Homo sapiens: one gene and its partners. The protein of the gene in region 7 purifies or fractionates together with the protein of the main gene of each other region. This does not show direct contact. Each region holds a gene or a part of one and is shown on either strand. Other genes may lie near its edges. The genes, in order: GTF2I, USP16, SRRT, GLDC, ISG20, CRYBG1 and SOST.

Region 1 (4,288 bases), on a different chromosome or scaffold from region 7:
AAGACTCCAAAAACCACAAGAAGGATTAAATAAGAAGGAGATTCTAACACACAGATGAACTTGATAATATCCTACATTCCAGCCTGGGCAACAGAGCAAGACCCTGTCTCAAAAAAAAAAAAAAAAAAAAAAAGTTCTGCACCACTGAACTATACATACACTTAAAAATGGTTAAGACTGGGCGCGGTGGCTCACGCCTGTAATCCCAGCACTTTGGGAGGCCGAGGCAAGTGGATCATGAGGTCAGGAGACTGAGACCATCCTGGCTAACATGGTGAAACCCCATCTCTACTAAAAATACAAAAATTAGCTGGGCGTGGTGGTGCGCACCTGTAGTCCCAGCTACTTGAGAGGCTGAGGCAGAAGAATCACTTGAACCCGGGAGATGGAGGTTGCCATGAGCCGAGATCATGCCCCTGAACTCCAGCCTGACAACAAAGCAAGACTCTGTCTCAAAAAAAAAAAAAAAAGTTTCTTTTGGTAAAATCAGGCTGGGTGTGGTAGCTCATGTCTCTAATCCCAGCACTTTGGGAGGCAGATGCAGGCAGATTGTTTGAGCTCAGGAGTTGGAGACCAGCCTGGGCAACATAGTGAGACCCCCATCTCCACAAAAAATAAAAAAATCAAGCCAGACGTGGTGGCATGCACCTGTAGTCCCAGCTACTCGGGAGACTGAGGTGGGAGGATGTCTTGACCCTAGGACACGAAGGTTACAGTGAGCCAAAAGCATACCACTGCACTCCAGCCTGGGCAACAGAGTGACATCCCGTCCCTCCCCCCACAAAAAAAGGTTAAAATGGTAATTTTTGTGTTAAGTATATGTTACCACAATTTAACAACAACGACAACAACAAAAAACACTACAAGGAACCACTCCAAAGAAAGGCATTCACGGTGTAAATGGCAGACACAAATTTATTCTTCATAAAGGAACAAATTCATCTTACAGGATTTTCTTTTTTTTGAGATGGTGTCTTGCTCTGTCGCCTAGGCTGGAGAGCAGTGGCAAGATCTCGGTACACTGTAACCTCCACCTCCCGGGTTCAAGTGATTCTCATGCCTCAGCCACTCAAGCAGCTGGCATTACAGGCACCTGTCACCACTCCCAGCTAACTTCTGTATTTTCAGTAGAGATGTGTTTTTTTGTTTGTTTGTTTTCCTTGAGACATAGTCTTGTTCTATGGCCCAGGCTGGAGTGGAATGGCGTGATCTTGGCTCACTGCAACCTCCGCCTCCAGGGTTCAAGTGATTCTCCTGCCTCAGCCTCCCGAGTGTCTGGGATTACAGGTGCGCACCACCACGCCTAGCTAATTTGTTTTTGTTTTTTGAGACAGAGTGTCACACTGTCACCCAGGCTGGAGTGCAGTGGTGCGATCTCAGCTCACTGCAAGCTCCGCCTGCCGGTTTCACACCATTCTCCTGCCTCAGCCTCCTGAGTAGCTGGGACTACAGGCACCCGCCATCACGCCTGGCTAATTTTTTTTTTTTTTTTTTTGTATTTTTAGTAGAGACAGGGTTTCACCATGTTAGCCATGATGGTCTCGATCTCCTGACCTCGTGATCCACCCGCCTTGGACTCCCAAAGTGCTGGGATTACAGGTGTGAGCCACCGTGCCCGGCCAATTTTTTGTATTTTTAGTAGAGACGGGGTTTCACCATGTTGGCCAGGCTGGTCTCAAACTCCTGACCTCAAGTGAGTCATGGCCTCCCAAAGTGCTGGGAGTACAGGAGTGAGCCACCACACCCAGCCAAAAAAAATTTTTTTTAATGCTTACCGGGGGGGAAAACGAAGAAAGAAAACGAACAGGAGGAAGGAGTAACACTAATGAATCTTGCAGGGTCTATTTCTCTGCCCTTTCCTCATATGGACATAATACATGCCATCGTCCTCCTCTGTCAAATTATCTCACAGATGAGATCATGTAATTTAAGTGCATTAAAGTCTAATGCCAAAGCCAGTTACTAATTTTAGTTCACTTCCAATACCTTATTTATTTTCTTGAAACCAATTACGGTCTGAAAACTCAATCTAGATAAAATTCTACTCACGTCATGTATGTGTTATAGTCAACAGTAAGAGCTAAATTTCTAGATATAACAAATTAAAATGAACAACATATAAAGCATACATTCTCAGGTTTCATCAATCCAACTGTCAAGCTCTGGCCAGGCGCGGTGGATCACGTCTGTAATCCCAGCACTTTGGGAGGCTGAGATGGGCAGATCACCTGAGGTCAGGGGTTCCAGACCAGCCTGGCCAACATATAGTAAAACCCCTTCTCTACTAAAAAATACAAAAATTAGCTGGGCATGGTGGCGCACGCCTGTAGTCCCAGCTACTTGGGAAGCTAAGACAGGAGAATCACTTGAACCCGGGAGGCAGAGGTGAAGGTTGCAATGAGCTGGGATCCCGCCACTGCACTCCAGCCTGGGTGACAGAGGGAGACTCCATCTCAACAAAACAAAACATAAAAACAATGTAACAGTCACAGGGGAAAATCCCACAGAGGAATAAGTCCTTGCCCTTGCAATTCATATTCTCCAGAGTTCTTGGAGATTAACGTCATAGTCGATATTACTAGTAAAATTTTCGCTTCCTCAATTTCCCAAAAGTCTTTATAATAGTACTTTTATGACTAATATTTCTTGAGTGTCTACTACATGCCAGACAGCAACCTAAGCACTTAAACTCTATCCTTGCAACAGCTCTTAGAAGCGAAACATGTTCTATTATCAACTCCATTTTTAAAAATAGGGGCCAGGCGTGGTGGCTCAGGCCTGTAATCCCAGCCTTTGAGAGGCTGAGGTGGGCGGACCATCTGAGGTCAAGAGTTGGAGACCAGCCTGGCCAACATGGTGAAACCCTGTCTCTGCTAAAAATACAAAAATTAGCCAGGTGTGGTGGCGCATGCCTATAATTCCAGCTACTCGGGAGGCTGAGGCACAAGAATCACTCGAACCCGAGAGGCAGGGGTTGTAGTGAGCTGAGATCATGCCACTGCATTCCAGCCTGGGTAACAGAGCAAGACACTGTCTCAAAAAATAAAAATAAAAATAAAAAATAGGCCGGGCACTGTTGGCTCACACCTGTAATCCCAGCACTTTGGGAGGCCGAGGCGGGTGGATCACCTGAGGTCAGGAGTTCGAGACCAGCCTGACCAAAATGGAGAAACCCCGTCTCTACTAAAAATACAAAATTAGCCAGGCGTGGTGGTGGCACATACCTGTAATCCCAGCTACTCAGGAGGCTGAGGCAGGAAAATCGCTTGAACCCAGTAGGCGGAGATTGCGGTGAGCCAGGCGCGCCACTACACTCCAGCCTGGGCAACAAGAGCAAAACTCTGTCTCAAAAAAAAAAAACAAAAAATAGGGAAACATACAAAGATGAAGTGAAATGCCCAAGGTCGCACAGGCAGGAAACGGCAAGGGCCAGGACTGGAATCCAGGCAGTCAGACTTCAAACTTGTGTCGCTAGCCATAAGCTATAAACCCTCTCTCAATTTATAAATTTGTCTTCCCTCTCATGATATATTTTTTAAGTAACTAGTTCTTTAAAAATCCTACATAGAGTGTTGGCCAGGCGTGGTGGCTCATGCCTGTAATCCCAGCACTTTGGGAGGCTGAGGCAGGTGGATCATTTGAGGTCAGCAGTTTGAGACCAGCCTGGCCAACATGGTGAAACCTGTATCTACTAAAAATACAAAAATTAGCCGGGCATGGTGGCACACACCTGTAATCCCAGCTACTCAGGAGACTGAGGCAGGAGAATCGCTTGAACCTGGGAGGCGAGAGTTGCAGTGAGCCGAGATCGCGCCATTGCACTTTAGCCTGTGCGACAGAGGGAGACTCCTTCTCAAAAAAACAAAAACAGAAACAAGTTACAACCAAAGGAGAATGAGTCAATCCTCCAACAACTCTGACAGTTCCTGGCTATACTGAACTTTCTCTTACTTTCTCAGTAGGCCAAAGTGGTAAAAAGCAAATGAGTACTGCCAGAAACAGGCATGGAATACCAAAACAAGAATTTTACAGAGGAGAAAACAAACAGGAAGACAGCAGGGAGAGTTCCAGAACAAAAGGACAACAGTAAAGGACGACAGGGCAAGAATGGAGAATGAAGAATTATCAAGACAATACCTTCACCTCTTCCGATGACGTACCCACACAATTTTTACAGGATACACACATCCTTGGCTGGGTGCGGTGGCCCAGCACTTTCGGAGGCCAAGGCGGGCAGATCACCTGAGGTCAGGAGTTTGAGACCAACCTGGCCAACACGGTGAAACCC
Region 2 (4,288 bases), on a different chromosome or scaffold from region 7:
ATTTCTGCCACAGCCCTAAAAAAATCATAATCATAAACCTCAAAGCCATAAAAACTCAGCAAGAGGGGAGAATGCATAATCTATCATAAACAAGGAAGTGGCTCATGAAATTCTGCCATTCTTACAATCTTGAAAAGAAAATGTTAGACTCTAGAATCAATATTTTGTTAAAACTTACATATGCACAGGCAACTGAGAACATTTAAGTCAACAAGTATTTAGAAAACCATGCACTCGCTAGGCGCGGTGGCTCACACCTGTAATCCCAGCACTTTGGGAGGCTGAGGCCAGGGGTGGGATCACCTGAGGTCAGGAGTTCGAGACCAGCCTGACCAACATGGTGAAACCCCATCTCTACTAAAAATACAAAAATTAGCCGGGTGTGGTGGCGCACATCTGTAATCCCAGCTAATTAGGAGGCTGAGGCAGGAGAACTGCTTGAACTCAGGAGGCGGAGGTTGCAGTGAGCCAAGATCACGTCTGGGCCTGCACTCTAGCCTGGGCAACAAGAGCAAAAACTCCATCTCAAAATAAAAAAAAAAAAAAAAAGAAAACCATGCACTCAAAGTACTCTTCTTGTCCAACTTTCCAGCCCAGATTAAACCACACTAATGCAGTCAAGTCTGGTTTGGATTCCTTAACAGTCTCCTAAACATTCCCCTAACTTCAGCCTCCTTCTTCACATGCATATTCTTTCAGTTTAGTGTTCCTAAAACAAAGCTCTGTTCATACACCATTCAAAAATTATGAATTGCACTCTTAAACTCCTAATAAACAAACCTGACATCCTCTGACCCCGACATATCTCTCCAGTGTTAACTCCCACATTCTCTTATTCACATACCAACGACCAGCTAAAAACACACTGAGCGCTTTTCACAACTATGCAATTTTGTTCACATTATTCTATTTATCCAGAATCCTTTATGAACACTGCTACCTAACCAAATCCCACCCACTCTTCAAGATCTTGCTCAAAAGCCACCTCCTCCCAGAAGCCTATACTTATCTCCCAGATGAGAAAATACTGTCTCCTTCCTTTAAACAAATTCTATAAAACATGGCATGAATTCCTAGTGGCATTCCTTATTTTTTACCTTGTACTAACGTTATTGATATTTATATCCTTTCTCACCTGGTCTATAAATCCCAAAGGCTCAAGGCAGTAGACTTAATCTATTACCAAATATTCTAGAACACAGGAGGTGGTCAAAAAACACTATTTAAACAAGTAAATGGGAGACTTTTACCTAAAAGATGTATAGGCTTATTCATAAAAGAACATGACCTAAACTTCTGCTTTCAGCTAGTCAGATCACTGCTGAGAAACATATCTTCACTGTGTATCTACTGGAACCAGTCTATCAACTTTTGGATCACAGTACAACAACCGGTCGTGTTTCCATTGCCGCTAAATATATACTTTGGAGAAGAAATATACATTGGTAATTTCTAATTCCTTAACTATGATCCCAAACACTATTCGCTTAATTTATCCCACTGAACATTTAATTACAAAATAAATGAATTAACATTTGATACTATTTTTGAAAATTACAACATCATTTGAGATCATTTGAAACATAGTTGTCTTGAGACAACAGTTAAGAATCATTAGCTAACAGTGCCAAAGGTATCTAGTGGGAAAAAAGTTAGCAGTTAATACTGACATGTCTTATTCTTACAAATTAAAAAGGTAGCACAAAAATTTGTAACACAAAATATATTCTGAAAAACTGAAATAGCAAAGCATATTCATACTCACCATATGTATTTAAAAGGTTACAATTAAACCTTTCAAATACAAGTAAACAGTATCTTTTCTAACATACAGATTTTTTTAACTGACCACAATGAGATATCAGTATATAACTATCATGATGGCTAAAATAAAAAACTGTGACAATTGTAAATGCTGGCAAAAATGAAGAAAAAGTGAAAGTGAATCATTCATACACTGCTAGTAAGAATATAAAAGGTAGAGTCACTGTGAAAAAACAGTTTGGCAGTTTGGCAGTTTCTTAAAAAACTAAACATTAAATTGCCATAGGACCCAGCAATTGCACTCTTGGGCATTTATCCTAGAGAAATGAAATCTAAGTTCACACAAAAACCTGTACACAAATGTTAACAGCAGCTTTATTTGTAATCACCAAAAAATGGGATCAGCCCAGATGTTGTCATTCGACAGGTAAACAGTAAAAACAAGCTGTTGTACTATATGCCATAAAATACGCTCAGTAATAAAAAAAGAGCAAACTTGATACACACAGCTTTGATAAATCTTTGGGTGATTATGCTGAGTGAAAAAGCCAATCCTGGCTGGGCACGGTGGCTCACACCTATCATCTTAGCACTTTGGGAGGCCCAGGGGGGTAGATCACTTGAGCCCAGGAGTTCAAGACCAGCCTGGGCAGTATACCAAAACCGCATCTTTAGAAAAAATACAAAAATTAGCCAGGAGTGGTGGCATGCAGGTGTAGTCCCAGCTACTCAGGAGGCTGAGGTGGGAGGATCACTTGAGCCTGGGAGGTGAAGGCTGCCGTGAGCCGTGATTATACCGCTGAACTCCAGCCTGGGTGAGAGAGTGAGACCCTGCCTCAAAAAAAGAAAAAAGCAAAAGCCAATCCCCAAATGTTGCACACTGTATGACTCCATTTACATAACATTTTTGATGAAATGACTAAATTTAGAAATACAGAATAGAATGGTAGTTGCCAGGGGCTGCAGAGAGTGGTGGCAGTAGGGAGGTGGGTATGATTATACAAGGGCAACACAAGAGATCCCTGTGATGTTCAACTATTTAGTATCGTGACTGTGGTGGTGAATAATCTACACAGGTGACAAAAGTGTACAGAATGTAATACACATGTACACATACACACATGCACAAAAAAAGAAGTCAAACTCAGGAGATCTGATTGCGATTGGTGTGTTGTTTCAATCTCAATATCCTGGTTGTGATATTATACTCATTTTGTAAAATGTTACCACTGGGGGACTCTGAGAAAAATGCATAGGGATTTCTCTGTATTATCTGTTAGATCTGCACATGATCTATAATAACCTCAATAAGATTTTCAATTTGAAAACGTGAAAAAACAAAAAATCCTGGCTGGGCGCAGTGGCTCACGCCTGTATTCCTAGCACTTTGAGGGAGCCAAGGTGAGTGGATCACTTGAAATCAGGAGTTTGAGACCAGCCTGGCCAACATGGCAAAACCCTGTCTCTACTAAAAATACAAAACTCAGCCAGGCGTGGTGGCACACACCTGTAATTCCAGCTACTTGGAGACTGAGGCAGGAAAACTGCTTGAACCTGGGAGGTGGAGGCTGCCATGAGCCAAGATTGTGCCACTGCACTCCAGCCTGGGTGACAGAGTGAGACCCCATCTCAAAAAAACAACAAAAAACTGGCTATCTGCCTGATCTTGAAGCCTCATGACTTCATGACTACTGCCTAGTAGCCCAATTTCCTAACATATAAGCTTAACTTGCCACCACTAAGGGTAACTGAGAGACCCTGACTTTAGTACCACGGTAATAACTGTGAGCTGGTAGAGTAGATACTGTGATGTGCCAGCCAGACATGCCCTCACTGCCAAAGATCAAGGTACTACTCATTCCCCCAGGTGCTGAGAATGTGGCCGGCTGAGAGCTCACAGTCTAGTCCATCCATCCCCAGGAATCAGTCTCAACAAAAGGGAGCTGCCTTGCCCAAGGTTACTTCCTGCTCTAGGGGCAGGCCACATCCAATGACTGGTCTATGCACAGGTAGAAAGGTCTAGCTCCTTGCCTCAATTCAGGCAAGAGATCACTGTGGGATTGGCTGAGACCCTGTTGCCACTGCCTCTTCATTCAACTTCTCCCTATGCTTAATCTTGCTTCCCTTACTTTTACTGGTGTGGTACCAGAGAACACTCCACCACCTATACACACATCTCAGAACTGGTTCTCCAGAGAACATGATCTATGTTACTAGTATCCTTTTATCCATACTGTACTTTCAGGTAATACCTTCTAAAGTAAGTTCAAAGAGTTTTCTAAAATCCCATATTGATCTTAAAACGTAAGCATACCTGATGGCCACATTTAAGACACAGCCAAACTGAAGGCTTTTCTTCTGTTTCTTCTTCAGCTTTATCTTTCACTTTATTGTCAGTCTTACAGTCTTGGCAGATATTCCATTCCACATTCACTAAAGCCTTTTTCAAATTACCTTGTTCCAATCCTTTTCTAATGTGTCTGCACACAGGTTCTATTAAAACAAATAATAGACAAGGAATATA
Region 3 (4,288 bases), on a different chromosome or scaffold from region 7:
CCACTCACGGAGATGATCTCGGCCCGGGAGATGTTGGGCGCGATGTTGCGCATGAAGAGGGAGCAGGTCTTATGCAGCGGCCGCGGCTTGCACTCCAGCCCCGCGGCGTCCTTGGGCTTCTCCCATTCTTCTTCCTTGGGCTTCTCCTTCTCCTTGAGCGCTTCTTCTAGGCAGGAAGGGGGGTAGGAAGGAGTTGGTGCATTTTTATTACTGATTGTGGTGGGGAGGATACAGAAGCTTTCCCCTAAAAGCCACCCACCCTCCCGTCAATGTCGCCAACCTCTCACCTCCCCACCCGCATTAGGAGAACGCACTTTAAAGCAGAAAAGAAACCCTACCGGCCTCCTCCTTCTCCTCCTCAGCCTGGCCGCTCTCTGACTCCGACTCAGACTCTGACACGCTGCCCTCGTCAAAGCTGTCGTCACCACTGTGCTTCCGGTTCCGCTTCTTGCTACTCTGTGTGAGCCACAGCAGAGGGGACAAGTCAGCGTGCCAGAACCCCAGCCCCAACACTCTGACCCCAGGCCACAGACACCTCACCTTTTTGGCTTCCTTCTCGGAGTCTTCTTTCTTCTCTTCCTTGTCCCCATCACCCTCCGACTTCTTTGTTTTGTCATCATTAGAACTGTCATTCTCAGCCTATGGTAAGAGACAACCACTGGGGATGTCAAACCTCCCCTCCCACCTTTATCAGAGGGCCCCCACCCCCACAGCTGAGGCCACAGGTTCATTTTCCCCAGCCCCCTACTTCTAGCTCCTATGGACCCCTACCCGCCCCCCTCCCCCAGGCTGCCAGGGACAACACTAGGAGACCCAGGGCTCGGACCTGCTTGCCGTCTTCCTTCTTCTCATCCTTGTCGTTGGTTTTGCGCTCCCCGTCCCCTAGGCCTGCTCCAGCCCGTCCTTCTTCTTTCTTGCTGGGCTCCCCAGGCTTTCCTGCCTGCTCCTCCTCCTCCTCCTGCTCCAGGATGCGAAGATCATTCTCCGTGCCTCCTTCCATCTTAATCACGGCTACCAACAAAGGGAACAGAGGTCATGACCCCAGGGCCCTGGCTCCTGTCAACCGGCTTCTACCTGATCCCCAGACACCCCCACCCCCATGGGGCCCAGATGCCTGCCACCCCTCCAAATCCGCACACCTGCATCCAGCATCTTGACAATGGCATCAGCTTTGTCTATGTCCAGGAGAAGGTTATCAAACCAGCCAGTCTCCATGAGGGACAGGAAGACCCTCAGTCGGTTTTGCAGGGCCCCCCGGGCCTCCTGCCGACGCTTCCCCACCTCATCTGGGTGGTACTTAGACCGAAACCTGGGAACGAAGCGGGGGAGGGAAAGACAAAACAGTTATTGGAAGCCAAGGCCAGGATGTGGGAAGGGGCCCAGGAAAGACAGGGCATATCCCCCTTCCTCTCACAACCACAAAAGGTCATCAAAATAGAGAGATTAAGGGATAGGGGTGCGCTAGAACCACCCAACACCCCAAAAGGAACCAGAAGTTGTGTTCTGTGAAGATTTGGGGGAGAACCAGGAACTAAGAGCTCTGGATTTGGGAAGACCAATGACTACAGGGGGACGCCAGGGTAGGAGAGGCAGATTTACCACTTTAAATCTCTGGGAAACACTAACGTAGTAAAAAGGTGTCATTTCCCAAAGCTTCAGAGAGGAAGGCTCAGGAAATAGCAGGCCCTGAAGAACCTCCCTCTCCTCACCAACCCCAAACTGCAGTCATTCAAAAACTGCTCCCGCCAACTCCCTCCACCCCGAGGTGGAAGACAGAGGGCCAGATAGCAAAAGCCCAGAGGCAGGGCACCTTTCTCCACCCGTGGGAAGATAAGCAAGACGGTGAAGGGACAGGAAAGACCGAAGGGAGACACTGGAGTGCCCTTTAGAGCCTCAGGTCCTGCCCACAGGGGGAGAGAGAGGAGAGGGCTGGAAGGTTAGGGAGAAGAAAAATAAAACATTTCAAATAGGACCTCAGAGGGAAAACAGAAGAAATGAGGAGTATGAGGAAAAGGGGAAAGGGAGGAAAGGGGAGAGTGTGAGAAAGTCCCAGAAACCGAAAACAAAGGGAAAAACTAAAGATCAGAGAGAGAAACTAAAAAAACCAACAGGGAAGAAGGTGGTGTTAGGCAGGGAGCAAGAACAGAAACAGAGAAGAATGAAGGTGCTGAGAGATTAGGACAAAGACACAGAGCAATTCGAGAGAGGGGACAGCGAAGACAGAACAGAACCACGAGTGGGGCAGAAGAGGAAAGGAAAGCCGCAGGCATCACCTCCAGGATCTTTACCTTGGCCGCTTGGTCAAACAGAGCTCAAGATTTAACTAGCGGCGCCCAGGGCCCATGCTGGCTGGTGGGCCACCGGCTGGCTCCTGGCTGGGCGCCCGGCCGAGATGCCCACGCGGGACTCCGCAGTGGGGCCTGACTGGCTAGCTGCCTGAGCAATCACATTCAGCTAAACCGCTGCATTGTGCACAGCAGTGCCCTGGCCTGTCTGCCTGGCCGGGGCCGCGCAGCTCAGCCCAGGGGCTCATGTATGGGCTGGGTATGGTGGGGGTGGAGGTGGGTTTGCTCCGAGCTCCGTCGATGAGCGGGTGTAGTTCCCAGTTCTGGCTCTTTTCAAGGAGGAGGAGCAGAAAGAGGATGAGGAGGAGGAGGAGCAGGAAGGGGGGAAAAGATGGTTGATTAAAATTAAAACATCCACAAAAGGAAAAAAAAATTAAAATTCTTTTTCTGTCAAACGACCGAGATCTTTGCTTTTCTTGTCTGGATTCACTCGTCGCTTTAGGAGGACGCCACAGCCACACAGGGTCCTGGTGATCAGGGATGACAATGACCCAACACCAACAAGTGGGAAGCAGTCTGTCTGCTGCCCCAAGGGGCCAAGTGGCTCTGGCCTGCTGCCTGGAGGTGTCCCACTCTCTGAGGACAGCAGGACAGGAGACAGGGCGGGGCGGGGGCCGTGGCAGTTGCTGAAGTGAGGGGGAGACCCCATCAGCCAATGCTGTCATACTTCCCGACCCCCGCCCCCAGAAAGTTCTGGACAGGGAAAACTGGGAAGAGGACAGGGCTGTGGCTCCACCAGCGGGGCCAGGGGGACATGCCAGGGCAGAGGTCCAGGGAAGTAGGGGCACTCACCACTCCTCATCTTTGTGCGCCAGGAAGAAATCCTGCATCTGTTGCCTCCGGAAATCCAGCTTGTAGTCATTATAGCGCTTGACGGCCTCCGTCTCATCCACCGAGTCATCCAGGGAGAGGAGAAACTCCTTGAAGGTCTTCATCACGGGCGGCGGCACACCCAGGTCAATCTCTGCAATGCTGCCCAGCCTGGAGGGGACCCCGGTCAGGAAGGCTTGGTTTTTGGGGAACGGTGGGAGGCTACAGGGGCCAAAGTAGCTGGGGCCCCTTTACTTTGTCCACCATGGACATCACCCCAAACCCCAACAGCTACCACCCCTACCCCAGGGACATGCCTCTGTGTGCCTGACCCGCTCCCTGGCTTCAGCCATGGCCTTCAGCAACCCCATCCATCCCCCAGGCCTACCAACCCTCTTCTGAGAAGCCCCACCCTTACCTGGCCTGGATAGGCAGGACATGGTGCTGCATGATGTGGACGTCAGGGTGGCCCCAGGGCTGAGGGGGGCCATAAGTTGGGCCCCCACCCCCCCCAGCATAGGGCATCTCATAGCCACTGTGGTATGGGTCAGAGCTGTGCTCATCCCTGAAGGTGGGGGACACAAAAGTAAAGCAGAGAAGGGAGTCACCTCCCCAGAGCATGGAGGATGGACAGACGGGGGTACACACAGCATGGTCTCCCAGACAAGGGTTTCAAGGGACAAAGTAACGATGGGTGATGGGAAGTTGAGAAAAGGAAATGACAAAGATTTAGGCACAGGTGAGGGGAGAAAGGGGAGGCCCAGGTGGAACTGAGGCAAAGGGGAGGAGAGGGAAACCGCTCCATCTCACCAGTCTCTCCTCATGCGCTTCTGTGGCGGGCTGAGTTCGTGGCGAGGTGGCGAGAAGCGCTCTCGCCGATTCCGGTCATAGTCCCGATATTCACCCCGACTACGGCGCTCACGGCCACGGTCCCACTCTCTGGCAGTAAGAACAAGTAACAAAGATTAAAGGCCAGGCACAGTGGCTCATGCCTGTAATCCAAGCACTTTTGAGGCCGAGGCAGAGAACACTTGAGGCCAGGAGTTCGAGACCAACCTGGGCAATAGTGAGACCCCCCCCCGCCCCCCGCCATCCCTACAAAAAATTTTTTATTTTTTAAAAAGGTAACAATA
Region 4 (4,288 bases), on a different chromosome or scaffold from region 7:
TTATTTTAGTTCATTTGCATTGGAGTACCTGAGGCTAAATAATTTATAAATAAAATAGCTTTATTTGGCTCATGTTTCTGCAGGCTGTGCTGTGCAAGAAGCGTTTGCTTCTGGTGAGGGTTTCAGGAAACTTCCTCTCATGAAGGAAGGGGAAGAGGAGCAGGCATCACATGGCAAAAGAAAAAGGAAGAGAGAGAGAGGAGGGAGGTGCCAGGCTCTTTTTAACAATCACTTCTCATCAGTTCTCATGGGAACTAGTAGAGTGAGAACTCACTCATTACTGTGAAGACAGCGCCAAGCCCATCTTCAACACTGGGGATCACATTTCACCCTGAGATCTGGAGGGGACAAGTATTAAATCTGTATTAGTCATATTATTAGCCTGGCAAGGAATGAGGATCAAGCCATGTATTGATTATATATTCTGGATATTAAATCCTTATCAGATATATGACTTACATATATTTTCTTCCATTCTGTGGGTAGTCAGTCTCTTAACTTTCTTGATAATGTTCTTTGATGCACACACATTTCAAATTTTATAGAAATTTAATTTATCTAATTTTTATATATGTTTATTGTTTATTCCTTTGGTGTCACATTTAAGAAACCATTGCCAGATCCAAGGTTATGCAGATTAGCCCCTATATTTTCTTTTTTTTTTTTAAGATGGAGTCTTGCTCTGTCGCCCAGGGTGGCGTGCAGTGGCATGATCTCAGCTCACTGCAAACTCCACCTCCCAGGTTCACGCCATTCTCCTGCCTCAGCCTCCCGAGTAGCTGCGACTACAGGCACCCGCCAACACGACCGGCTAATTTTGTATTTTTTAGTAGAGACGGGGTTTCACCATGTGAGCCAGGATGGCCTCGATCTCCTGACCTTGTGATCCACCCACCTCGGCCTCCCAAAGTGCTGGGATTACAGGTGTGAGCCACCGCGCCTGGCCTATTTTCTTCTAAGTTTTAGTAGTTTTAGCTTTTAAATTTACATCTTTGGCCAGGCTCAGTGGCCCATGACTGTAATCCCAGCACTTTGGGAAGCCAAGGCAGGCAGATTGCTTGAGCCCAGGAGTTTGTGACCAGCCTGGGCGGCATGGTGAAACATCGTCTCTAGAAAAATACAAAAATCAGCCAGGTGTGGTGGCATGCACCTGTAGCCCCAGCTACTCAGGAGACTGAGGTAGGAGGATTGAGCCCAGTAGGGCCAAGGCTACAGTGAGTTGAGATCGTGCCACTGCACTCTAGCCTGGGTGCTAGAGAAAGACCCTGCCTCCAAAAATATTAAATAAATAAATAAATAAATAAATAAGTAAAATTATATATTTGATCCATTTTGAGTGCTTTGTGGCCCAGCCACCCAGAAGCCTGGATGTCCACATGTGGCTCCAGGCACAGTTCTGGCCCTATCATCTCTGTGTTTCTCCTTCAGGAACTGGTTGCTGAAAGCATGGGAGAGGAGTGCAGAGGTATTCCAGGGTCTGTGTTCAAGAGGACCAGCCCGTTCCTCACCCATCAAGTGTTCAACAGGTTTGTGTGTCTTGTGTGACTTCTGCGTTTTGTGCTTTGGTAATCAGCTAGGGAGTTAGGCAGAGTGCTGCTGCTGATTTCGCCTGCTGTGGCCTGGTTATTCTGGCTCAGCCGTGGCTCCCAAGTATTTCATCCTCATAACGATCCCGTTCCTGACTTGGGAAAAGCACACTTTGTTTCCTGGTGGCTCTGCTCCCTTGGCAGTCAGGAAGCAGGGATGAATAATTGCCAGGCTGAAGTTCACTCCCAAGAGCCCTATATCCTCTTCTTCCCAACCTTCAACTCATACCCACAGTCAGCTTCTTGTCCAAGACATCCTCTGAGGTTTGTGGGGGTCTGTGCCCTTCTCTCTGAGTGTAGTTGACATATTGTCCGTGGCCAAAATTGATCTGCATTTTGAAAGTAGATTTCGGTGTGTCTTATATGTCAGGAGGATGTGCATGGACTCATATCTACTTTTGGGGCCCCTAATTCTGTGTTTTGTGTTCACAGCTACCACTCTGAAACAAACATTGTCCGGTACATGAAGAAACTGGAAAATAAAGACATTTCCCTTGTTCACAGCATGATTCCACTGGTAGTTATTTGTGGCCTTTTTTCTCATTTCCAAGCTACCCCAATCCCACGTCTCTTGGTCCTACCTAATATGCTCCAAGAGCAACAAAGGGGTGGCCATGCTGGGAGAATGGAGGGTTGATTGATGGACTATAGAAAATCACTAATGTGATACATTTTGGATGTTCTTCTTAAAGGGATCCTGCACCATGAAACTGAACAGTTCGTCTGAACTCGCAGTAAGTAGCTCACTTCTGTAAGTGGATACTCAGCAAGGGGCAGTGTTCTAGCTTCCACCTAAGCCCAGAACTAGTGAAATCTACTGGGACTGTGATTCTGTGATTGAAGAACTATTTTAATAATTCTTTACCTTGCTATTCACCAATCTTGGGAGTAACCCTGTATTTCTCACGACTTCATCATTTAAATGTATGGGTAAACTTATTATTTTTTAATAAAATTAATTAAATGTATATGGTATTTATGCCTTTCTATCCTATCCCTCCCCCACCCCCACCCCCTTTTAAACCTGTCATATTAAAAGCTTTTTTAAAAAAAATTGTTTATAGTTCTAAATCTCAGGTAGAATTACGAACCTTAAGCCGTCTTTCTAGAAATCATTCCTGTATCAGAAAGATAGGGATTCAAGTCAACAGAAGATTTGTGCAACTCGCTGTTGTGGTTGGCAAGTATCTCTACTAGGCCAGGATCCATTTTAGCGAAGCTTTTTTTTTCTTTCTTTCATTTCTTACGTTTATTCTGAAGTGACATATCATATCAGACGAAAGAAATCATTTTATATCATGATAAGAATATTTCCCTCTCTATTTTTTTAAAAAATAGAGTCAAGGTCTTGCTGTGTTTGCCAGTCTGATCTCAGACTCCTGGCCTCAAGCAGTCCTCCCACCTCAGCCTCCCAGAGTTCTGGAATTATAGGTGTGAACCACTGTACCTGGCCTTCCCATTTACTTTTGTGTTTGTTTCTTGTTCCACTTAGTGAAGAAAGAGAACAATCTATTGCTATATAAGAGTTTATGCCAACCATACCTGAAGCAACTCATTGTGTTTCATGGAAAGAAATCTGTTTTGGGGGCTTTTCTTCCCTGAAAAGTTAGCAAAACATTGTATTTTTGTGTAAGTTCCCTTTTTGGACAACTATGTCCCACTTTTAAATGAAGACAGTAACGGTACTTACCTTATAAGGTTGTGGTGGAACTTAAATAAATTAACATATGTATAGCGCTTAGAACAGTGCCTGGCACATAGCTTTTCTCATCATCGTCATTATTATTAAAGTTATTATTGCTATTGCTATTATAATATGTATATATGCATTTTTGTTTTCTTTCTTTTCAGCCTATCACATGGAAAGAATTTGCAAACATCCACCCCTTTGTGCCTCTGGATCAAGCTCAAGGATATCAGCAGCTTTTCCGAGAGCTTGAGAAGGATTTGTGTGAACTCACAGGTTATGACCAGGTCTGTTTCCAGCCAAACAGGTAAGGGCATTTCTTTTCTTATTGTTTCAGCAATCTATTCTTGTATAGCATACACCACAAAACTTAAAGGCTTAGAACAACAACTTTTTTGTGTTATTCTGTGACTTGCTAGACAGTTCCACTCCACTGGGGAGAGCATGGCTAGAAGGTGCATCGTGTTCTCCCTCACATAGCTGGTGAGGAGCTGTGGGCTGGGAGTGCATTTGAGGATGTTCACTAGGGCCATAGTTTTTCTCCATATGGGGCTTTCCTTGTAGTTCCTTGAGCTTCCTTGTTCCTTACAGCACAATGTCGGGGTTCAGAATGCGTGTTCCCAGATGAAGCATGGAGAAGCTGCAAATCTCTAATGGCCGAACCTCCTAAGTTACACTGCATCCCTTCCAGATTAGTCTATCTATTAAAGCAAGTCACGAGGCGAGCCCAGATTGAATCGGGGAGGGGACAACACCTGGGTGTGAATTTTGGTAGATGTCGTTCATTGCGGACTGTCTTTGGAAGCTAGCTTACTACACCTGTCAGTGACACAGCATAAGAAGAAGGATCAAGCACACATGCTGAATTCCAACAAGTGTCTCAGTTTAGCAGGGCCAGGAGAACCTGGATCCTGCTTTGGTAATGTCACTAACTTTGAAAGGTCCCTTCTCCTCTTCCAGCCTCAATTTCTTTGTAAAGGAAAGACTTTGAAGAAGAACAGTGATTTTCAAAAGC
Region 5 (4,288 bases), on a different chromosome or scaffold from region 7:
TAGCTGTGTGACTTGGGCAAGCCCCTTAATCTCTCTGATCTCGGGCTCCCTCCTCTGTAAAATGGAATTAAGAATAACCTCATTGAGGAGCTTCCTGAGGAGGTAAGGAAAGTGCCTGGCACAGTGCCAGGCTGCTAAGAGATCAATAAATGTCCCATCCCCCAGCCCCACCCCAGTTCTTTCCAGGAATTTGAGAGACTCCTCCCCCTGTGTTTGAAAGTGGCAAAGTCTGGCACACTTGCCTCATGACACTGACTCAGGGCAGGTCCTGTGGCCAGCAGGTCACACAGCCCCGAGGCCAGCCTGCCAGTGCCTTTCTCCGACTCCTGGGCTCCAGCAGGTGCCCGACTCCTTCCCTTTTCAGACCTGCCTCAGTCTGTGGAGCCCTGGCTGCTAAAGGGCCACTCAAGCCTCACCAGTCTGGGCCCTCACCTTACAAATGGGAAAACTGAAGCCCAGAGAGGGTCTTTGACATCCCTGAGGTCACACAGCAAGTTCCAGCATCTCTTCCTTCCCAGAATCTTTGTCCCAAAGAGTGGTGTCTCTTTGCTAAATAGATGGTTCTGTTCTTTCCCTTCTTCCTCTTCTTTCCTCGGCTTGTCCTCTCCCTCTTATTCTATTTGTCTCGTGGTGAGTCACATAGTGCCTCATGTAGACCCCCACTTCCCCTCTCCAGACTCTCAGGCTCGGGAAGTGATGGGTTTCCTGGGAATCCACACCATGATGACTCGTACCTTCTACGTCTGTGCCCAGCTGTGGCTGCCTCTGGGATGGTGGATGAGTTCCTTCAGGGCTTTGTGTGAACTGGGCCTGAGCCAAGCCCCTAGATGGGGAAAACAGGCCACATTGTTCAGGAGCACAAAGGATGTTAGCAAGAAAAGACACATGACCCATGGCCGCCCACACACCCACATCTCTCCACGCCCCGTGCCATTTCTGCCCGCCGCTGCGTGCTGGGTGGTTTCCTCTGCACAGAGTTTCCCTTGAGCTGCTACTCTGAGGTCGTGTGCCTGTTGTCATCTTTTAAAGCCTCAGTTTTGTCGCCATTTCCCAGGTGACCTCTAGCACACTCAAGTTTGAGAAGCGCTGGTGTGGTTCAGGAGCAGCGCCCCTTCATTCTCCAGCACACTCTCCCCAGTCCTCTAAGTCGAGCGTGAGCTCTGTCCAGAGAAGGCCTCCAACCAGACCATGTGGACCGCGGGGCAGGCTGGTGACACTGCCTGTTGACAGTGGATGGACAGACTGCTTCCCGCATAGTGACCCTGGGCAAGTCACATCTCCTCTCTGAGCCTCAGTCTCCTGTGGTTGCCAGGGGAGAACATGTAAAAGGGAACACATGATGTTCCAGGAGGCCGCTGGCTATCTAGAAGGAGAAGCAGGCTACGGGGAAGGTGTTAGGCACCAGAAGGCTCTTTCCTGGTGTACAGGCTAAGGTCGTGGGCTACATGCAGAGAAGGAGACGAAGGCTGTCCTAGAGCTGTCCAAAGTGGGCCTGGACTAGCCACGAGCCGCCCCTTTCCCTAATAGAGCTCACATCTGTTCTATTTTCAGGTCCCCTTCCCATCCTCTCCAACGGCAGCTGAGTGAAAGCAAGCTGACTGGCCTGTGTGACCAGAGCAGGGCAGGCTGTCCATGTGGGAGGCGAGGCGAGGAACGCGGGGCTGGGGCAGTCACAGCTGGGCGCCTGGGCTGCTGGAGGCCTGGAGTGGTCGTTCACTCTTCTGGCTCAGTGTGGCAGTGGCAGGCGGGCTCTGGATTCATCCCACTGGCTTCAAGGCCTGGCTTTGCCACTAACTAGCCGTGTGACTGTCCCAGTTATCAAATGGTGCTTGGCAAATCACACCAAAACTTACCGGTTCAAACAATGTCAATACTTATTTCGCTCGGCCACCTGCAGTTTGGGCAGGTGCTCTGCAGCAGGACAGGCCGTCAGTTAAGGCACCTTGAAGGCTGGGGGCTGGAACCATTGGAAGGTTTGCTCACCCACCTGTCTGGTGGCTGGTGCTGGCCTGCCTTGGACACATCACTATCTCGGTGGCTTTTCCCCGTGGTCTTTCCAGCATGGTGGCTTTGGGGTGGCCAGACATTTATTTATTTATTTATTTATTGAGACGGAGTCGTGCTCAGTCGCCCAAGCTGTAGTGCAGTGGCACGATCTCAGCTCACTTGCAATCTCCCTCCCAGGCTCAAGCAATTCTCCTGCCTCAGCCTCCCGAGTAACTGGGAATAGCCACGGCGCATGGGTAATTTTTGCATTTTTAGTAGAGACAGAGTCTCACCATGTTGGCCAGGCTGGTCTCAAACTCCTGGCCTCAGGTGATCCACCTGCCTCACCTCCCAAAGTGCTGGGATTACAGACGTGAGACACCGTGCCTGGCTGGTGGCCGGACTTCTTATAGAATTGCGGTCCCAGAGAGAAGTCAGAAGTCATACAGGCCAGCCCATATGCAATGGGAGGGGAGTTTGATTCCATCTTTTTTAAGAAGAGTGTCAAGGAATTTGCAAACTTGTTTTAAAATCATCAGAGTAAGCCTGGGCATGTCACTCCTCTGCATTTCAGATATTTCCTTTGTAAAACTCAGTTAAATGCAGTGCTCCCTCCTCACTGTTAGTTTTCTGTGGCTGCCGTAAGGAAGCCATCAACTTAGTGATTCACAGCAACACAGATGTCTTCTCTTACAGTTCTGTAGTTTCGAAGTTCAGCGTGGGTCTCACTGGTCTAAAATCAAAGTGTCAGTGGGGCTAGGTTCCTTCTGGATGCTCTGGGGAAGAATCCATTTCCTCGCCCTTTCTGGCTTCTAGAGGCTGCCTGAATACCTTAACTCACGGCCCCTCCCTCCATCTTCAAAGCCAGCAACAGCCTGTTTTCCTCATGTGGATTCACTCTGACCTCCACATGTAAGGAGGCTTGTGATTATGTTGGGACCACATGGGTAGGCCAGGTGATCTCCCCATTTGAAGGTCGACTGATTAGCAATCTAAGTTCTGCCCGGAACTTTAATTCCTCTTTGCCAGGTAATGCATTCACAGATCCTGGGGACTAGGGTGTGGACATCTTTGGGAGGTCATTATTCTGCCTGCCATAATAGAATTGTTGGGAAGATTAAACAACATAATATACATGACGTATGTTGAGGCACGCTTGGCACCTGGGAAATACTCAGGATGTACTAACCATTGCTCCTACACAGTTCAGCTCCTGAAGGAGTCCAGGTGGGCTTTTGGCACAGAATGAAACTATCAGGTGTGAGGAGGGTCCTAGTGCAATCTCTTCTTTTCAAAGATGATACATTTGAAGCCCAGGGAGGACTGATAATTTGCCCAAGGTCACACAGCCAGTCAAGGAGGGATTGCTCCCTTGCCAGCCCCAGCCCCACCCAGAAGATGCTGGGTCATGTAGGGGTGGGCACATGTCTTCCTGGCCAGATCCTGCAGCTCCTGAAAGGCAAGCTGGTGGTGGGTCATGACCTGAAGCACGACTTCCAGGCACTGAAAGAGGACATGAGCGGCTACACAATCTACGACACGTCCACTGACAGGCTGTTGTGGCGTGAGGCCAAGCTGGACCACTGCAGGCGTGTCTCCCTGCGGGTGCTGAGTGAGCGCCTCCTACACAAGAGCATCCAGGTGAGAACCTCCTCGTCCTTCTCCTCCTCCCCCCTCCTCCCCCTCCTCCCCCTCCTCCTCACCCATCTCCATTTCCTCCCCCTCCTCCCCCTCCTCCTCCCCCTCCTCCTCCCCCTCCTCCTTCTCCTCCTCCTTCTCCTCCCTCCTCCCCCTCCTCCTCCCCCTCCTCCTCCCCCTCCTCCTTCCCCTCCTCCTTCCCCTCCTCCTTCCCCTCCTCCCCCTTCCCCTCCCCCTTTGCCCTCCTCCCCTTCCTCCTCCCCCTCCCCCTCCCCCACCTCCTCGCTCTTCTCCCCTTCTTCCCCTTCCTCCTCCCCTGTCCCCTCCCTTTCCTCCTCCTCCCTCATGCCCTCGCACACCTCAGGGCAGCTTGCCTGAGGCATTGATGGTAGGTCCTGCTGTGCCTGGTCCCTGGCTGGTAGAGTGAGGATGAGGGCAGGGAAGGGAAAACACCCAACAAAGGTTTGCTTTTGTTGTTGAAATCAAGCCAGTTACCCTGTGGGAAGTGAAGCTTGCTCCCACCATAGAACTCTGGGCAATGATGTAAAGCACACACCTCACCTCAGATATGTCTCACAGCAGGGGCCGGGGAACTGGGATATTTGTACACCAGTTCCCATCAGCCACCAGCTGCTGCTGCTCCTGGGCACTGATTCCGCAGCAC
Region 6 (3,688 bases), on a different chromosome or scaffold from region 7:
ATTAGCAGCGGACCAGAAGGAAGGACACCTCACTCCTTGTCTTGGCTCTGACATGAACCGTGGGACTCTAGGTTTCTTAAGACTTCTTTTTAAAGCTCCAGAGCCCCTTCCTAAATGACACTATATAAATTACTCAAGTGCCTGCTGAGTAAGCATAATGTCCCGTATATTTGTGAAATCTCAGTATCTAGCACGGTAGCAACAACAGTCTTTTTTTTTTTTTTTTTTTTTTTTTGAGACGGAGTCTCACTCTGTCGTCCAGGCTGGAGTGCAATGACACGATCTCGGCTCACTGCAACCTCCGCCTCCTGGGTTCAAGCAATTCTCCTGCCTTAGCCTCCTGAGTAGCTGGGATTACAGGTGCCTGCCACCACGCCCGGCTAGCTACAACAGTTTTAATTCCTTGTTAAACTGAATTTAATTTTCTCAGACTGGGAGAATGGTGCCATCTTGTGGACATGAGAGAGCAGCGCCGCACGTCCCACACCCCATGCAAAGGAAAATATAAACACGTCTCTTCTCGTTGGTGCACTTACTAGCAGACCATGATTTCCATTAGCTACAACTACTGAACCATTTGTTATCTATTAAAATTGCCCTAAGAATTATTAGATCATGCATCTGTCTTCTAGCTCATCTTCTTGTGTTTGGGAAATGAGTTCTTTTGGTAGACATTCATGTATTATTCCAGACCACATACCTTGTAACAACAGTGGAAGCTGATTCATGTTCACTTTAAAAAACATGAAGTCTGCACAATTTAAACACTCTCCAAAGGCAAGAGAATGAATCAAATTATTTCTCAAGAACTTTCTAGTTTTCATGATTCTAGTTGAATTTATATGAAAGTATTTTAAGATACTTTACTTTTAAAATACAAAAGATACTCTTAAAATACAAAAAGTATTTTAACATACTATAATGAAGAATGAAAAGAGACATTGTGACTTTAATACTTCCTGAAATTTCAGTGGAGTATGCTGTGTGTCTCTGTCTCGGCAGAGTGTAGGGTTTGCTGGTAGTTTTTTCCCTACTGCTACAAACTTACACATAAAGGCCCAAAACACCTTACCCTTGTATTCTATAGTACATCTAGCCATACATCTAGCTGTGTAGAGGCTGTAGATTACCAATGATGATAAATCAGTGTCTCACAAGAGAAGAGACGATTTCCTTCCTCAACTATAATACCTAGATTTATTGTGTAAATTCCCAAACCTTTTTCATATTTTGTAAATGCTTCAAAGGTGAAAAGAATGTTTATTTCTTCTTGATCCAAGGAGGAAGCATGCTTTCAATACCAGTCACTCCCTGCATCAAAATGCACAGATTTTTACTTTGATGGGGTCTTTGTTGATACATCCTTGGTGCTGAGGTTTATGCTAAAAAAAGGATAAGCCATCTGAAGGGATCTTTATTCTACACTGGAAAAAAAAAAATCAGATAACCCTTTTGTTAATGATACTTCTCCAAAGAAAGAAGCCATGAGGCTGTTTTTAGCACTAAAGTATCTGAAACATCCAGTAAGCACCTTTGGAAAATCTTACAAACATTCTGGTAACAGGGAGAGAGTTCATGATAATAGTTTTACAATACTGTGGTACTCAGCATCCTAAATGCTATGAAATTTTATCCACCAACTGAGTCCCCAGTAGTGACAATGCTACCGCGTCCCCTTATGTACTTCCGGGTGTCATCCAAACCTCCCCTTTGACCTAATACAGCCCGTTTTCATTGTTCATGCAAGTGCTGTTCCTCGATAACCATTCCTCCCACCTTTCCACCACTGCCAGGACTACCTGCTCTTTCCTCGCTGGTGTCTCGAATCTACCATCTCACCACCAAATATATGTTAGTCTCTTTACTCCTTTTCCCTTCTCTCGGGTTTTCCCAGTTCCCTTGAATTTCAGACATTGTAAGAGTGACTGTGGACTAGCTCTTAAGAACTGGGTAGAAAAAGGAGCCCGTGAGGTGGGATGTCCTGTGTGAAGGTGCTGGTGCCCCAATGGTGGGATCTGGACAGATTCACCCATGGCAGGTTGACCCTCTCATCCCACAGGGGCCCAGGCTTCCCTCCCTGCCTTGCCTCCTTGAGGCATGCAGTTCTACACCTTGTTTACTTGCTTACTTTTGCTGTACTGGTGTTAGGGGAATTGTGTCTGCTATAGACCCTTCACCATGGGTACATTCATCTTTTATTATTTTCCTTTCTTTTAGGGGGCACACAGTATGATCAAAATCACATTATCCTCAACACTGTCAGCAAAGAGAAGTTTACACAAGTGTGGGAAGCCATGGTCCTATATACCTGAACAAAGAAGGAAGAAGAATCTTCTGGAGGTCCTTCCAGCCACCTTATTTCTTAAAAAGGACAATGCTGATGGAAGACCAGACTGGAAAGTGGATCGACTCCTCCTTCATTGATTCTAAATTCAACCTTAAATCATGCTGCCATGACTCAGAGAACTTACTCATCGTTTCAAAAGACTATCATAGCTTTAAACCAATAATTTGTCCTCCTTTCATTTCTTGCCTTTCATTTTTGGTAGCTGCTTAAACAGGTTGCCTAATTAGCAGCTTTTGGGTGATTTTGTAAAATGTTATATCAAGATTTCAAGACTGTGTACATTTTAAATTATTTCCAAAGATAGTGACAGGAGAGAACTGGAACAAATTTACCAACTTTGTGGACCTACAAAGCCCTTACACTTTAAAGGGTAAGACAAAGGCTTAAGTTTGAAAGGTAGAGAACTGTTTAGCATCTGAGAAGAAATACTTTATTAGGCCTGTAATTTTGGTTCTTGGCCTTAAACACTTTCTGGAACCTTTAAATATGCTGCATAGCACAATGGGAAAGCCTTAGGTATTCACACATTTAAGGAACTCTAAACAAAATACTATTTTCCTTTAGTTCATATTAAAAATTAATACATTTTAAAAATTTAATGTCAAAGTCTGGTAACATTTGTTAGTAGGATTTGAGTTATTATTTTTTGAGACAGGATCTCAGGCTGGAGTGCAGTGGCACAATCACGGCTCACTGCAGCCTCTACCTCCCCAGGCTCAGGTGATCCTCCCACCTCAGCCTCCCAAGTAGCTGGGACTATAGGCACACATCACCAAGCCCAGCCAAATTTTGTTTTTTTTTTGTAGAGATGGGGTTTCATCACGTTGCCCAGGCTGATCTCGAACCTCTGGGCTCAAGCAATTCACTCGCCTCGGCCTCCCAAAATGCTGGGATTACAGGCCTGAGCCACTGCGCCCAGCCAGGATTTGAATTATTTTAACTCATCCATGGGCTGCCCTAGAATGTCACAAATGAGGGTTGTTTAATGCCTTTCTTATAGCTGCTACTGGAACACTATTATGACCTAATTTATGAGCCATCCTTACTCATCTACAAGTGCTGAAGCAATGTTACATACTTTTTTGCTAAACTCAGATTTTTTAGCCTAATTTCTTGTCCTCCTATCCACCTGCATCCACACATGGCCTGCATGGGGCTGCCTTCCCTGCAGTGTTCTGCAGCCATGCTTCAGGGTATAGCTGTTGGTGGACAGCCTCAGGTCTTGGGGGCACTATAGCCACTAAACGAGGTGTGAAAGGCTCAAGAGGATGACCAGCAATTAATTATCCCCAGAAAGTGAAGGAAAAGAGACCTTTAGGGATGTTGCTGGTCAAGTCTTGA
Region 7 (3,342 bases):
GCATCCAGCACTATTAAGACACCTTGGGGAGGCGAGACTTTGAGAGAAGTGCAGGAGGCTGGCCCACTTTTGAAGATCCTACATTTCTACCCAGGAGGCATCAAATCCACACTTCGAAGAAGATGAAGTTTCCTGTGAGCTGGTCCTGAATTGTACTTGGCTTTGTGTTGTCTATGCCAGTACTAAGCAGGACTTGGCCAGGCTGGTCCTCCATGAATGACTGTCAAATGGAAAACAGAATTAGGAACCAAAGTAGTGGTGTAGACAAAAGGGGCTGGAACCTCAGAGGAGAGAGGGATCATGGGAGATTGGAACATCTCTGGAAGGTTAGGGGAAGAGATGACAAGTAATGTGAATCCTAAAGAAAGAGGATTAGTTATTGGGGGTGCTAAGTGTGGATGGCAAACTAAGGAAGCAGGGATCTGCATGACCATTTGGAGTCAGTAGGAAGCTTGGTGGAGTGGGAGGTGGGAGTCAAGCAGAGAAGGCCTCCCATGTCAGATAGGGAAACTGCACTTGATCCTGGGCAAGGGGGAGCTATGGAAGGCTTTTGAGCAGGGGAGTGATACAATGAGAACAGCATTTTGGAAGCCAGCATGGAGGGGAGGCTGCTAAAAGGATACAAGGCTGAGGTTATTACCATGCCCTGGGTGAAGAAATGCGGTCTGGGTTTGGAAAGGAAGGGATAAACATGACTTTTCAAAGGAAGACATAATTGCCACAAGGGCCACCAGAGAGCAGTCAAAGGTGTGTCCAAGGTTGGAGCTCTAGTGACCAAGAGAAGGGTGTCAACTTTGACAGAAATGACGTCATGTGTGGTTGACAAAATGAGACCACATCCTTTCGGTCATGATTCATTGTCTTTATTAACAATGTCTCTGGACTCTGGAAGAACAGACTGTTAATTCATAAAGCAATATTAACATTGTCATTCTCTACAAGAAAAACTTTTGCATAAATAACTTAAGTGAGAAAATAAATATGTAACTTAACTCTTTAAAAACCACTACTTTCATTCTTGTGGACAAGTCCCACGTGGAAGAATTGCCAAAAAAACGACCAGTCCTGCAGGCTTTCATATGTCATGTGCTTCTGTTTAAAACTTTTTTTTTTTAACAATTAAAAACTACACAGAAAGTAAGAGGTTGTCTGGAAATGATTTTCAAAAAGATTTTTGGGTGGCAGTATTATGCTCTGCAGTTTCTCAGCATATGTACAGCACTTGTAGTTTTTCCCCCAATAATATTCTTTTAGTGTAAGATATGCCATCACATGTAAGAGCAGTAAGAAGCTGTTTTCTAGGCAGAAATGTGTCCGTGAGTGGTGGGCAGAAGGCGGTGTCTCAAAAGGGATGTGCTGGTCTGTGAGTTTGTGATGGCTGCTCCCTCGGGCCTGCAAGGCCAGTGTCCTTGAACCTTTCACTTCTCTTCGGAAGGTGACTTTAAAACATGGCTATGGGTCGGGGGAGGGATGCTGCTCTTTGGGAAGTTGGGGCGGATGTGATTTCTATCCCTCCCACCACCCTCGGACCCTCTCCTTTTCTACCCCAATGGATGATGTTATTTCTTTGAGATGGAGGGGTGGAGGTAGCCAAACATCCGGGGAAGCCAGGCTGGGAAGCAGCATAGCTTCTTCCAGGAGTTTGTCAGCCGTAAATATGTCAGCCATAAATAGACTCTTTACTTTTTTTTTTCTGTTTGTTTTTCATCTTTGGCTGTCAGAAGAGAGCATCACAACTCTGAATTCTGGAAGTGACCTTGGCACTGAATCAATGCAACTGCATTCATTCTCTCTCTTTCTCTCTCTCTCTCTCACCTCTGCCCATTCAAAAGGCACTGGAGTCCTTGGAATCATATGCCAATAGTCTCCTCGAGATCCTATTCCCACCTCCACCCTCATTTTACAAAGTGGAAATTGAGGTCCCGAAGGAGAATTGTGTAGTTCAAGGTTACACAGCAAGTTAGTGGCAGAGCCAGGACTAGAAACCACATCTACAGTTGCCCCCAGTCTTGTGCTCTGGGCACGCCTCAGGCTTTCTGATGGGCAGCGAGGTGCAAGGGGGAATCTTATCCAACTTTCTTAACCAGTCCCTGGACTTTCCCACTCCCACACCGCTCCCTTAAAACCCCAGGGCGGTGAAAATGCTTCCATTTCTGCCTCCTCTGAAGTGGGACCAGCAAAGGTAGGCGGCCCCAGAGGCGGGGCTGCGTGGCTCAGTGTCTGTGACTCTCAATTCCCTCCCCTGCCCCGTGGGACCCCTCAGCTGGCGGGCTGAGGGGGGCCTTGCCGGCGCCCGGGATTCCTCAGGGCCTGGAAGGTCTCAGCCCCCTGCCCTGGGTTGCAGGCATTTACAATGAAATATAAACAATCAAACCACGCGCAGAGGACAGAAATGTGGGGCGCGGGTTCAGGGCCGGGGCGCCCGCCGGTGGGGAGGGGCGCGGGCGGGCTCTAGTAGGCGTTCTCCAGCTCGGCCTGGTTGGCTTTGGCGCTCCGGGCGCGGGGCCGCGGCTTCCGGCCCTTCTGCGGCCGAGCGGCCTCGGTCCCGAAGTCCTTGAGCTCCGACTGGTTGTGGAAGCGGGTGAGGCGCTTGCACTTGCACGAGGCCACCAGGCGCACCTTGCGCGCGCGCGGCGCCTCACCACCGGGACACAGCAGCTGCACGCGCTGCGCGCGGTAGCGGTCGGGGATGCAGCGGAAGTCGGGCCCACTAGGTCGCCACCACTTGCCGCGGCCGATGGCGTTGGGCAGCAGGCGCGCCGGGCCGCACTGGCCGGAGCACACCAGCTCGGTGACCGGCTTGGCGCTGCGGCACGGCCCATCGGTCACGTAGCGGGTGAAGTGCAGCTCGCGGCAGCTGTACTCGGACACGTCTGTGGAGAGAGGCGCGCGTGAGGGTGGCCGCCCGCCTGGCCACCCCTGCCCTGGACCGGCCCGTCTCTCTCCACCCCAGCCCTGCTTTTGCCAAGCCTGTCTCCAGAGGCTTTTGCCCCTGAACATCTATTGCAGGAAGGTCCCAGATGCTCTAGAGCTGGTGGAAAGCTCTCCTGCGCACCCTGTCCCCTCGGAGCCAAATGACTGCTGGGGTTCAAACACCAGGGCTCCATCGCTCACTGCAGGTGTCATCTTGGGCAAGTTCCTTAACCTCTCTCTTCTTCCTGTCTGCAAAATGGGCCGCCCCAAGCATTGCGAGTTAATCCATTACACACGCAATGCAGAAAATACCATTTGGCACATATAGCTGAAAGCGTCGGCTGTTATGTATTATTATTATCATTTCTCTTCTGGGGTCTTCTTATGATTTAAGCCACACTTGTGCCGCAGGGTCCCTGGCCTGGGCAG

The links.
Region 1: the proteins of SOST (region 7) and GTF2I purify together in Homo sapiens (affinity purification with mass spectrometry; 2 studies listed by BioGRID and IntAct, with this or other methods). This does not show direct contact.
Region 2: the proteins of SOST (region 7) and USP16 purify together in Homo sapiens (affinity purification with mass spectrometry; one large-scale study listed by BioGRID and IntAct). This does not show direct contact.
Region 3: the proteins of SOST (region 7) and SRRT purify together in Homo sapiens (affinity purification with mass spectrometry; 2 studies listed by BioGRID and IntAct, with this or other methods). This does not show direct contact.
Region 4: the proteins of SOST (region 7) and GLDC purify together in Homo sapiens (affinity purification with mass spectrometry; 2 studies listed by BioGRID and IntAct, with this or other methods). This does not show direct contact.
Region 5: the proteins of SOST (region 7) and ISG20 purify together in Homo sapiens (affinity purification with western blotting; one study listed by BioGRID). This does not show direct contact.
Region 6: the proteins of SOST (region 7) and CRYBG1 purify together in Homo sapiens (affinity purification with mass spectrometry; one large-scale study listed by BioGRID and IntAct). This does not show direct contact.

What each region holds. Positions count from the first base shown.
Region 1 is NC_000007.14:74,664,019-74,668,306, reverse strand, and holds part of GTF2I (general transcription factor II-I), read right to left. Parts: intron 1-4,288. UniProt on the Homo sapiens protein: Interacts with the basal transcription machinery by coordinating the formation of a multiprotein complex at the C-FOS promoter, and linking specific signal responsive activator complexes.
Region 2 is NC_000021.9:29,030,564-29,034,851, reverse strand, and holds part of USP16 (ubiquitin carboxyl-terminal hydrolase 16), read right to left. Parts: intron 4,258-4,288; coding exon 4,079-4,257; intron 16-4,078; coding exon 1-15. UniProt on the Homo sapiens protein: Specifically deubiquitinates 'Lys-120' of histone H2A (H2AK119Ub), a specific tag for epigenetic transcriptional repression, thereby acting as a coactivator.
Region 3 is NC_000007.14:100,881,091-100,885,378, reverse strand, and holds part of SRRT (serrate RNA effector molecule homolog), read right to left. Parts: intron 4,095-4,288; coding exon 3,966-4,094; intron 3,721-3,965; coding exon 3,574-3,720; intron 3,327-3,573; coding exon 3,138-3,326; intron 1,310-3,137; coding exon 1,140-1,309; intron 1,012-1,139; coding exon 827-1,011; intron 640-826; coding exon 541-639; intron 457-540; coding exon 339-456; intron 167-338; coding exon 9-166; intron 1-8. UniProt on the Homo sapiens protein: Acts as a mediator between the cap-binding complex (CBC) and the primary microRNAs (miRNAs) processing machinery during cell proliferation.
Region 4 is NC_000009.12:6,586,433-6,590,720, reverse strand, and holds part of GLDC (glycine dehydrogenase (decarboxylating), mitochondrial precursor), read left to right. Parts: intron 1-1,428; coding exon 1,429-1,526; intron 1,527-2,018; coding exon 2,019-2,103; intron 2,104-2,278; coding exon 2,279-2,320; intron 2,321-3,437; coding exon 3,438-3,580; intron 3,581-4,288. UniProt on the Homo sapiens protein: The glycine cleavage system catalyzes the degradation of glycine.
Region 5 is NC_000015.10:88,648,684-88,652,971, forward strand, and holds part of ISG20 (interferon-stimulated gene 20 kDa protein), read left to right. Parts: intron 1-1,551; exon of another isoform or gene 1,552-3,231; coding exon of another isoform or gene 3,232-3,426; coding exon 3,427-3,627; intron 3,628-4,288.
Region 6 is NC_000006.12:106,566,255-106,569,942, forward strand, and holds part of CRYBG1 (beta/gamma crystallin domain-containing protein 1), read left to right. Parts: intron 1-2,217; coding exon 2,218-2,312; 3' UTR 2,313-3,688. UniProt on the Homo sapiens protein: May function as suppressor of malignant melanoma. It may exert its effects through interactions with the cytoskeleton.
Region 7 is NC_000017.11:43,752,891-43,756,232, forward strand, and holds the end of SOST (sclerostin precursor), read right to left. Parts: intron 2,874-3,342; coding exon 2,452-2,873; 3' UTR 848-2,451; downstream 1-847. UniProt on the Homo sapiens protein: Negative regulator of bone growth that acts through inhibition of Wnt signaling and bone formation.